Regions from separate parts of the Homo sapiens genome. Here region 2 is reported to be linked to region 1. The links are microRNA targets in miRTarBase. Many come from high-throughput screens and were not tested one by one. Region 1 holds a microRNA gene; the other region holds the end of a gene's coding sequence.

Evidence for each region. Region 1 holds the annotated microRNA hsa-miR-3613-3p (ACAAAAAAAAAAGCCCAACCCUUC, at 2,792-2,815, opposite strand). A microRNA usually pairs through its seed, bases 2 to 8, with sites in the 3' UTR of a target mRNA and lowers its output. Matches are read on the target gene's strand: a 7mer-m8 pairs with bases 2 to 8, a 7mer-A1 pairs with bases 2 to 7 and ends in A, and an 8mer does both.
Region 2: miRTarBase lists TRMT112 as a target of hsa-miR-3613-3p. Seed matches in the 3' UTR shown: 7mer-A1 at 825-831.

The regions. Positions count from the first base shown.
Region 1 is chr13:49,993,635-49,997,989 of GRCh38, forward strand. MIR3613 (microRNA 3613) reads right to left here and starts at 2,867; the gene lies at 2,781-2,867. TRIM13 (tripartite motif containing 13) reads left to right here and starts at 3,408. Exons shown (of 2, transcript NM_213590.3): 1 at 3,408-4,129. It overlaps DLEU2 (deleted in lymphocytic leukemia 2), which reads right to left. Exons shown (of 14, transcript NR_152566.1): 11 at 3,440-3,785; 12 at 159-327. RefSeq lists silencers at 2,375-2,424, 3,015-3,144 and an enhancer at 2,705-2,834.
Region 2 is chr11:64,313,424-64,317,567 of GRCh38, reverse strand. TRMT112 (tRNA methyltransferase activator subunit 11-2) reads left to right here and starts at 9. Exons shown (of 4, transcript NM_016404.3): 1 at 9-119; 2 at 203-304; 3 at 421-510; 4 at 600-1,108. The coding sequence starts at 42. The coding sequence ends at 707. ESRRA (estrogen related receptor alpha) reads right to left here. Exons shown (of 7, transcript NM_004451.5): 3 at 3,501-3,617; 4 at 3,201-3,329; 5 at 2,657-2,827; 6 at 2,298-2,567; 7 at 825-1,861. The coding sequence ends at 1,602. RefSeq lists an enhancer at 990-1,505.

The DNA.
Region 1 (4,355 bases):
TACCCTGTAAAAATATATTTCTCAAGGGGCCGGCATTCGGGGGCGGGGGGGGCAATACATTTATCACACAATATGAAACTTACATAAGACTAGATATATCTATAGTCTTCGTGCTGTGCTGATATATAAATTCCAAGTTTCAGCTGTTAGTTACTTACTTGGAGATCAGTAGAAGGAAATTTCAGTGTGACAAGAATGTTGACAATCCCTGTGCTATCTGTACTAGGATCTAGTTCCACTGTGCTCTTCCAGGGAAGGATGTAGCTGTGTATGCAGGTTTTAGTTGGACAGTCATCTTTTTCTAGTGGCAGTTTCCCAGTCGCTGTTCTGTGTATTAGGACCACGGGAGGAGAGAAAAGGTTATTCTTCCTTCTCCATTTTTCCACACTTAAGAGAATTTAATATACTGTGTTTTCTAGTTAGTAGTTAATTTTGTGTAATAGTCTAGAGATTGCTATACAGATTTAATGTGTTTTACACTTAGTTGGGCAAAAGTGTATTAGTATCTACCACCAACCAGATCTAACTACATAAATATATATTATATAATTATATTAAGGATAATTTGTGGGTTTTGCGTGTGAACCCTAAAAATCTGAGCCATGTCCCAGTTAATTTAGAAAGTTTATTTTGCCACGGTTGAGGATGCGTGCCCATGATACAGCTTCAGGAGGTCAGAACCCGAGGTGGTCAGAGCAGTTTGGTTTTGTACATTTTAGGAAGACACGAGACATCAATCAGCGTGTGTAAGATGAACACTGGTTCAGTCCAGAAAAGGTGGGACGACTTGAAGCAAAGGTGGGACAACTCAAAACAGGGGGCGGGCTTCCAGGTTTTAGGGAGATAAGAGGCAAATCACTGCATTCTTTTGAGTTTCTGGTTACCCTTTCCAAAGGAGGCAATCAGATATTCATTTATCTCAGTGAGCAGAGGGATGACTTTGAATAGAATGGGAGGCAGGTTTGCCCTAAGCAGTTCTCCGAAGCTTGACTTTTTCCTTTAGCTTAGTGATTTTGGGGCCCCAAGATTTTCCTTTCACATGAGTTAATAACTGTCCAGTCTTGTGAAATATCATTTTAATATTAGGATATCTGAAATGTTTCCATATGGCTGGGTGTGGTGGCTCACGCCTGTAATCCCAGCACTTTGGGAGGCTGAGGCCTGAGGAACACTTGAGCCCAGGAGTTTGACACCAGCCTGGGCAACATAGTGAGACTCTATCTTTACAAAAAATAAAATTAGCCAGGCGTGGTGGCGCATGTCTGTGGTCCCAGCTACTTGGGAGGCTAAGGGAGGAGGATAACTTGGGCCCAGGGGCTTGAGGCTGTAGTGAGCCATGATCATGCTACTGCACTCCAGCCTGGGGGACAGAGATAGACCCTGTCTCAAAATCAATCAACACACAATGACAACAAATAAATGAGATGTTTCTACAGATCACTTTGTTTTTTTAGAAACACTAAATTAATTAATTAATTTAGTTATTGAGACGGAGTCTTGCTCTGTTGCCCAGGCTGGAGTGCAGTGGTAGGATCTCGGCTCACTGCAACCTCCATCTCCCGGGTTCAAGCTATTCTCCTGCCTCAGCCTCTCAAGTAGCTGGGACTACAGGCATACGGCACCATGACCGGCTAATTTTTGTATTTTTAGTAGAGACCAGGTTTCACCATGTTGGTCAGTCCGGTCTGGAACTCCTGACCTCAGGTGATCTGCCCGCCTCGACCTCCCAAAGTGCTGGGATTACAGGCGTGAGCCACCGTGCCTGGCCTAAAAACACTAAATTTAGTAAGGTACTGGGGTGCAGTTTTGTCACTGACAGTTATGGTGCTGTAGAAAGAGCCCATATCTGGAAGCTGCCTTTAGCCTCAGCTCTGCCTCTTGCTTTTGTACCTTGGAAAAGTCACTTCACCTGTTTTCTCATCTATATAGGATGAAGATCATAATTTCTTTTACACAGTGTTATGAGACTGAATGACAGAAATTAAAAGAAGTGTTCTACGAAGGCAAAGTTAGGTTTCTTATAGCAGGAAGGGAGATGCACACAGAGAAGTGGGAATCTCAGGAGACGGATGTGGCCAGGGGCTTTTTACGGGGGTTGGGCTAAGCATTATTAGTCAACGGGCTGTACTGCTATTTATGGTAGGTTTTGAATACCGTTTCTCCAAAATAACCTATTTCCTCCCCAAACCCAAACTTCCTCAACTGGGATCGAACTCAATCCTACAGCGTGTTCTGAGATTCTATACTCGCCTCACTTCTCCCAAGATCGTAAATTCTGGAGGAGCCATTCCTTCATCATCCATGTTTGCATCCTTCACACCGTTCACTGGTTAAGTGCTTAGTACGTTTGCTATTGGGCAAGGTCCTCAAACGGGAGGTGGACGTCAGAATAGTCAGGTTATCGACTGAGTAACTGTTAGTGGTGGATAATTTAAAGCCAATTTGAAAGTTCATCCTTTCCCCCAAAGGCAAAAACAGGCGTTCCTTTTCTTAAAAGAGAATTTTAAATAGAATTGGGTCTCTGGTGTCCTGCCTAAAGCCCGCAAAGAAAGAGGGTACGGTTGGGGGTGGGGGTGATGGGGGATACTGAACCCTTTTCTGGTTGCGCCTTGCCCGGAGCCCCCGGCTAGAGCCCTGGCGCTCCTGGCGCGCTCCCAACGCGAATCGGTGACTCCGCAGGCCGCGCAGTGCGGAGGTGCCCGTCCCACCCTCCCCCTTGTGGGGTGCGGGGCTCCATTTCCCCAAGCCGCTGGGGTCGGCTTCTGGTCTTGAGATGCGGATGAAGTGGTGTGAAGGGTTGGGCTTTTTTTTTTGTTCCTAAAAATGCAACGAACAAAAAAAAAAGTACAACAATCCAAACCCAACCATCTTAATTGCACGGCAGCTTAACTGGGAGACTTTCTTCCCGGGCGGCCCCACCCGGGACCGCGCCGCTTCAGTCGAGCCCACCGTCTGGGCAAACGGCGTCCACTTCCCGGAGCCGCTGCCCAGCCTCTGCGGGGGGGCTTTGGGCGGGCGCAGGACTCTGGAAGGGAGAAAAGCCCGCAGCCCGGCCCTCCCCGTCCCAGGCGGCCCGCGCGGGTGGACGGCGGGAGCAGGCGGCGGTTGGAGACGCCGGAAGGAACGCGGTCTCACCACCCGGCTCCCTCCGCCAAGGCGAGGCGCGGCCGGGGAGGCGGGACACAGGCGAAGCGGGACGGGGAGGCGGGGCCGGAGGTGCAGGCGGAGGCGGGCGACGGGGAAGGGAGGGGGAGGGGGAGGGGAAAGGGAGGGGGAGGGGGAGGGGAAAGGGAGGGGGAGGGGGGAAGGGACGGGAGGGGAGGGGGAAGGGACGGGAGGGGAGGGGGAAGGGACGGGAGGGGAAGGGGAAGCGGGAGAGGGAAGGGGGCGGAGCTAGCCGGAGCCGCGAGTCCATTTTGGGGCTGTGCTTGGCGCGTACCGTGCGGTCCCTGTAGTTGGAGGACGGGCGGTCGCGCGGCCTTTCCCACTAGCCGGAGGTCGGAGATAAGTACCCGCCGCCCGGCTCCTCTCGGGAAAGCGGGGTGGTCCTCGAACCTTCAGCGAGGGTGGGGAGTTGCCCAGGTCAGCAGGGATCTGCGTGGGTTGGGGGGGCTGGCGAAGGCCGTCTGAGCTCCAGTCCGGCAGCGCGGCAGAAACCAGCGGGGCACTGTCATGGGCCTGGGGAGGAGCGGCCTGCGGAGGGCGCCGGGGCAGTGTGTCTGTGGTCCAGAAAACCTGCTCCGTCCGGAGCCTTCCTGGCCCCGCTACCAGCGTCTCCACATCCCCTAGAAAAGAAAAGACGGGTGTGGGCCTTAGGTTACAGCGCGCCGCCAGCGTTTGGTTGCATGGCGCCGGGGGAGGGCGCCCTAACCGAGAAGCTGCTTAATACAAAGAGCTCCAGGCTCCTGGCGGTTCACCAGGTCTAAACAGCCGGGCTTTATTTGTGGGGGCGATTGAAAAAATTGAGGGTCAAGATTGGGGTGCTGTGCAAATAAATGCGTTAATACTGTTCTTTTTCTTCTTTCTTTGCAGTAGCCTCTAGTTCGTTAGTCAAAACGTGAAAAAAAAGACCTGCTTTGCCCTGGGAAATAGTAACCCTGCCAAATACATCAGCTTGTAGGAGACAGAGGTAAACTACAATAATTTTCCTGTGTTATCTTTTTTTTTTAAACACCCAATTTCAATAGGCCCTAGAACCTTCCAAAATGGAACTGTGTGTAGAATACGTATGTTCCCATCCACTTTCATTGGTGGTCTTTGTTCTTTGCATATTTTGTTAAAACTTAGAAAAACAGAATTCACGTTTAGCAATTATTTATGTGGTATTTATCTTAAATATAGCCAAACATTCATAT
Region 2 (4,144 bases), not on the chromosome of region 1:
CCTTTTTCCGGTTCCGGCCTGGCGAGAGTTTGTGCGGCGACATGAAACTGCTTACCCACAATCTGCTGAGCTCGCATGTGCGGGGGGTGGGGTCCCGTGGCTTCCCCCTGCGCCTCCAGGTACCCGCCGGCGGCAGTCTTCCCTTTTCGGGCGGGATGGTGGGCCGGGGTCCAGTGCTTGCCTAAACTCCTCCGCCCTGCAGGCCACCGAGGTCCGTATCTGCCCTGTGGAATTCAACCCCAACTTCGTGGCGCGTATGATACCTAAAGTGGAGTGGTCGGCGTTCCTGGAGGCGGCCGATAACGTGAGGATCCTTACCCCGCCCCAGCATATCCCGGGGAATGCGGGGCGGGCACACCTCAGCCGGGCTGAGGCGGGAGTTCGGGATGCCCGGAGATAATTTTGGCCTCTTGCCCACAGTTGCGTCTGATCCAGGTGCCGAAAGGGCCGGTTGAGGGATATGAGGAGAATGAGGAGTTTCTGAGGACCATGCACCACCTGCTGCTGGAGGTGAGAAGCGGCCCATCACTTGCTTCCCGGGCCACCTGCCTCCCGCACTGAGGCTGCCAGTGCTCAGCTCTGTCCCTCCCTGCCCGCAGGTGGAAGTGATAGAGGGCACCCTGCAGTGCCCGGAATCTGGACGTATGTTCCCCATCAGCCGCGGGATCCCCAACATGCTGCTGAGTGAAGAGGAAACTGAGAGTTGATTGTGCCAGGCGCCAGTTTTTCTTGTTATGACTGTGTATTTTTGTTGATCTATACCCTGTTTCCGAATTCTGCCGTGTGTATCCCCAACCCTTGACCCAATGACACCAAACACAGTGTTTTTGAGCTCGGTATTATATATTTTTTTCTCATTAAAGGTTTAAAACCAAAAGCGGTTTCTCTTTGCAGCAAATATACATTAAAATAGAGTCTCTGTACAGCCAAGGGCTCTGGGCCCTGGCTTGCCCCATGTCCCTGCGCCTCCCTGGCCAAACCCAAAAATAAATATAGTGTTATTGCTCTGCAGGGCATAGAGGCAGTGCTCTCCTACCCCCTGAGGAGGCTCGTTGGGAGCTGATGGGGAAGCCCTGGCCACCCCAGGGGTCCAGGGGCTGGAGTCTGCTTGGAGTTATTGCTTCAAGGGGGGACACTAATGCCCAATGCAAATGATGAGAGGAGGAGCGAAGGGGGCATGGGCCTTTGCTCTCCAAGTCCCACTCTGCTTTGAAGAGGGGGTAGGATTAAGCAGCAGCAAAAGCATCACCCACTGGGAGACTCTGGCCTCCATCCCCTTCCCTCCCTGAGATAGGTTTCTGCCTCCCACGCATCCCGTGCAGCCCCCTATGGCTTCCGCAAGGCCCCCTACACTCTGGGGGCACGTTATGGCTTGCAAGGGGCAGCACTGTGCCCAGAGCCTGGACACACGTTCCCAGCTTCTGACACCCCCTAGGAGGGGGAGGAGAGGGCGTGGGGCCTGTTCCCAGGGGCTGATGGCATTGCCCTGGCCCTGCCAGCAGGCTGTGGCACTGCCCAGACCCCAGCTCCGCCCCAGCCCTTGGGGCTGACCCCATGCTAGGCAGGTCCTGCCAGAACCCCCACCAGTCCCACCCCTTGCCTCAGTCCATCATGGCCTCGAGCATCTCCAAGAACAGCTTGTGCATGGGCACCTTGCCCTCCAGCTTCACCCCATAGAAATGGGCCAGCACTTTGCCCGCTGTCTGGCGGAGGAGCGGTAGCGTGAGCAGCAGCCTGCCCGCCCGCCGCCGCTCAGCACCCCCTCCGGGGCCAGCCCGGCCGGCTTCATACTCCAGCAGGGCCTCGTGCAGAGCTTCTCGCAGCTGCTCCACAGCCTCGGCATCTTCGATGTGCACAGAGTCTGCAAGAAGAGAGGAATGTGGTGTTGGCCTGGGCTATCTCTGGCAAGGGCACTCCCCGTATCTTGAGCACTGCTGGATGGGGCCTAAGGAAGAGCCAAACGAGGATTTGTTGATTGGCTGACTGAGAGGCACCACTCATTGCTGCGGCTCGTGGGCCAGGACCCCACCCTCTCTCCCTCAACTGTGGCCACCTTGTACCCTCCCCACCTTCCCTCCCACTAAATGACCTTTCTGCATTAGTGTGGCACTAGGGCTCAAAATCCTGTGTGCAGTTTGGAGCCTGCACTTGGCTTGCTTTTTGACTTCTAGCAAGTCATTGTTCTTCCCTAAGCCTCAGTTTTCGTTATCTGCAAAATGGGGCTGTGCTACCGTCACTGAGTTAACCTGAAGACCTTACGGAGACACCTCACCTGTCAGTGCCTGCCCCAGACTCACCTGAATTGGCAAGGGCCAAGGCCTTTAGTAGAACATACTCCTCTCGCTCCAGCCGCAGGGCCTGCAGCCGCCGCACTAGTTGCAGCAGGGCAGCCCCCAGTTCCCCCAGGCCAGCTGCCCGTGCCCCCTCTTCATCCAGGACTAAGTCCTCAGCGAAGGCCAGCTCATCCTGCAGTGGCAGTGAGCGCTGGGCCACACCCAGCACCAGCACCTCCATCCACACGCTCTGCAGTACTGACATCTGGTCAGACAGCGACAGCGATGAGAAGCCTAGGGGGCAGCGGGGAGCGGGCCTGGCTGAGCAAGCGCACCAGAGCCGGGCCCGTTCAGGGCAGCCCCGGGTCACCTGGGCCCTTTACCTGGGATGCTCTTGGCCCAGCTGATGGTGACCACAATCTCTCGGTCAAAGAGGTCACAGAGGGTAGCCACGGCTGGGAGGTGCCCATCAGGGCCTGCGGGGTCAGGCATGGCATAGAGCTTCTCAGGCTCAACCACCAGCAGATGAGACACCAGTGCATTCACTGGGGCTGCTGTGACAATTAGAGGACAAGAGTCAGGAGCACTCGAATCTGTCAGGCCTCAGGGGTCAAGCATCTTCCCACAGTGGCTCCCCCTGTGGCCTTCCTCAGTAGCAGCTGTCCAGTGACTTCCCTCCAGGGAAGAGCGCTAACTGTCTCCCAGGGAAAGCCCGTGTGTTTGTGGACAGGCTGTGAGTGTTGGAAAATCGTCCCTGTTCCCAGTTCTACTACTTTTCCTGATGCAGGAAAAGGCAGTTTCACATGTCTTGGGGAAATGAGTGAGTGAAGAGACGAAGGGGAAATACAGGTCCCAGTGCCCAAGGTAACTATGATGCCACACATAGGCCTCCGGTTTCGTAGCCCCAGGTACCCACAGTGCTCTCACCTGTCTTCCGGGGGCCTCCAGCGACTGCCAGGGGCCCAGCAGGGAAGGGGCCCGGGAAGGGCAGTGGGTCCACCTCCGGCCGCCGCTTGTACTTCTGCCGCCCACCCCGGACGCGGTCCAGGCGCACTCCTTGAATTGTGGGACAGATAGGACTGTGACTGTGGTGCTGTGGGCAGGGTGGGGCTTGCTCTCCAGAGCTGTCCTCCCCGAGTCCACTCACCAGAACTCCCAGGCCTCACCCCCACCTGGCCCGGGTCCCCGACTCCCCCAGCCCTCGCCCAGCCCCTGCCCAGCGCTCACCCTCCTTGAGCATGCCCACCCGCAGGCACTTGGTGAAGCGGCAGGCCTGGCAGGCCTTGCGTCTCCGCTTGGTGATCTCACACTCGTTGGAGGCCGGACAGCTGTACTCGATGCTCCCTGCCAGGAAGAGGCAGGGCTCCAGTGGCGGCCTCCCGGGGCTGGGAGGGGACCCAGCTGACAGGAGAGCCCTGACTCTCCCCGGGCAAGCACAGGTCTGGGGGTATGGGGAGGAAAGGGAGAGCAGGGGGCCATGAGCAGGCAGGGAGGGGAGTGGCTGCTGGGCGGGGGAGCCCTGCCTGGATGAGGGAGGAGCTGGACCAGGCAGCGGGGCTGCATCTCAGCCCCAAGCCTCATCTCTGGACCACACTGCCCTCATCTGCCGACATCAAGGGCCACAAGGACCTCTGCATTGCTAAATCCAGTGGTCAATTCTTAGTCCTCATGTTACTTGGCCTAAAAGGAGGATCTAAGGCTGTTGATCACTTCCTGCTCCTAGAAACACTGAAACACTTTCTTCTTTTGCTTCTAGGACAGCATACACTCTGGTTTTCCTCCCACCGCACCAGCCACTTTGTGGTTTCTGAGCATCTTCCCAAGCTCTTCCATCCAGACTGCCAGGGCTGTCCTTGGAGCTCATCTCCAAT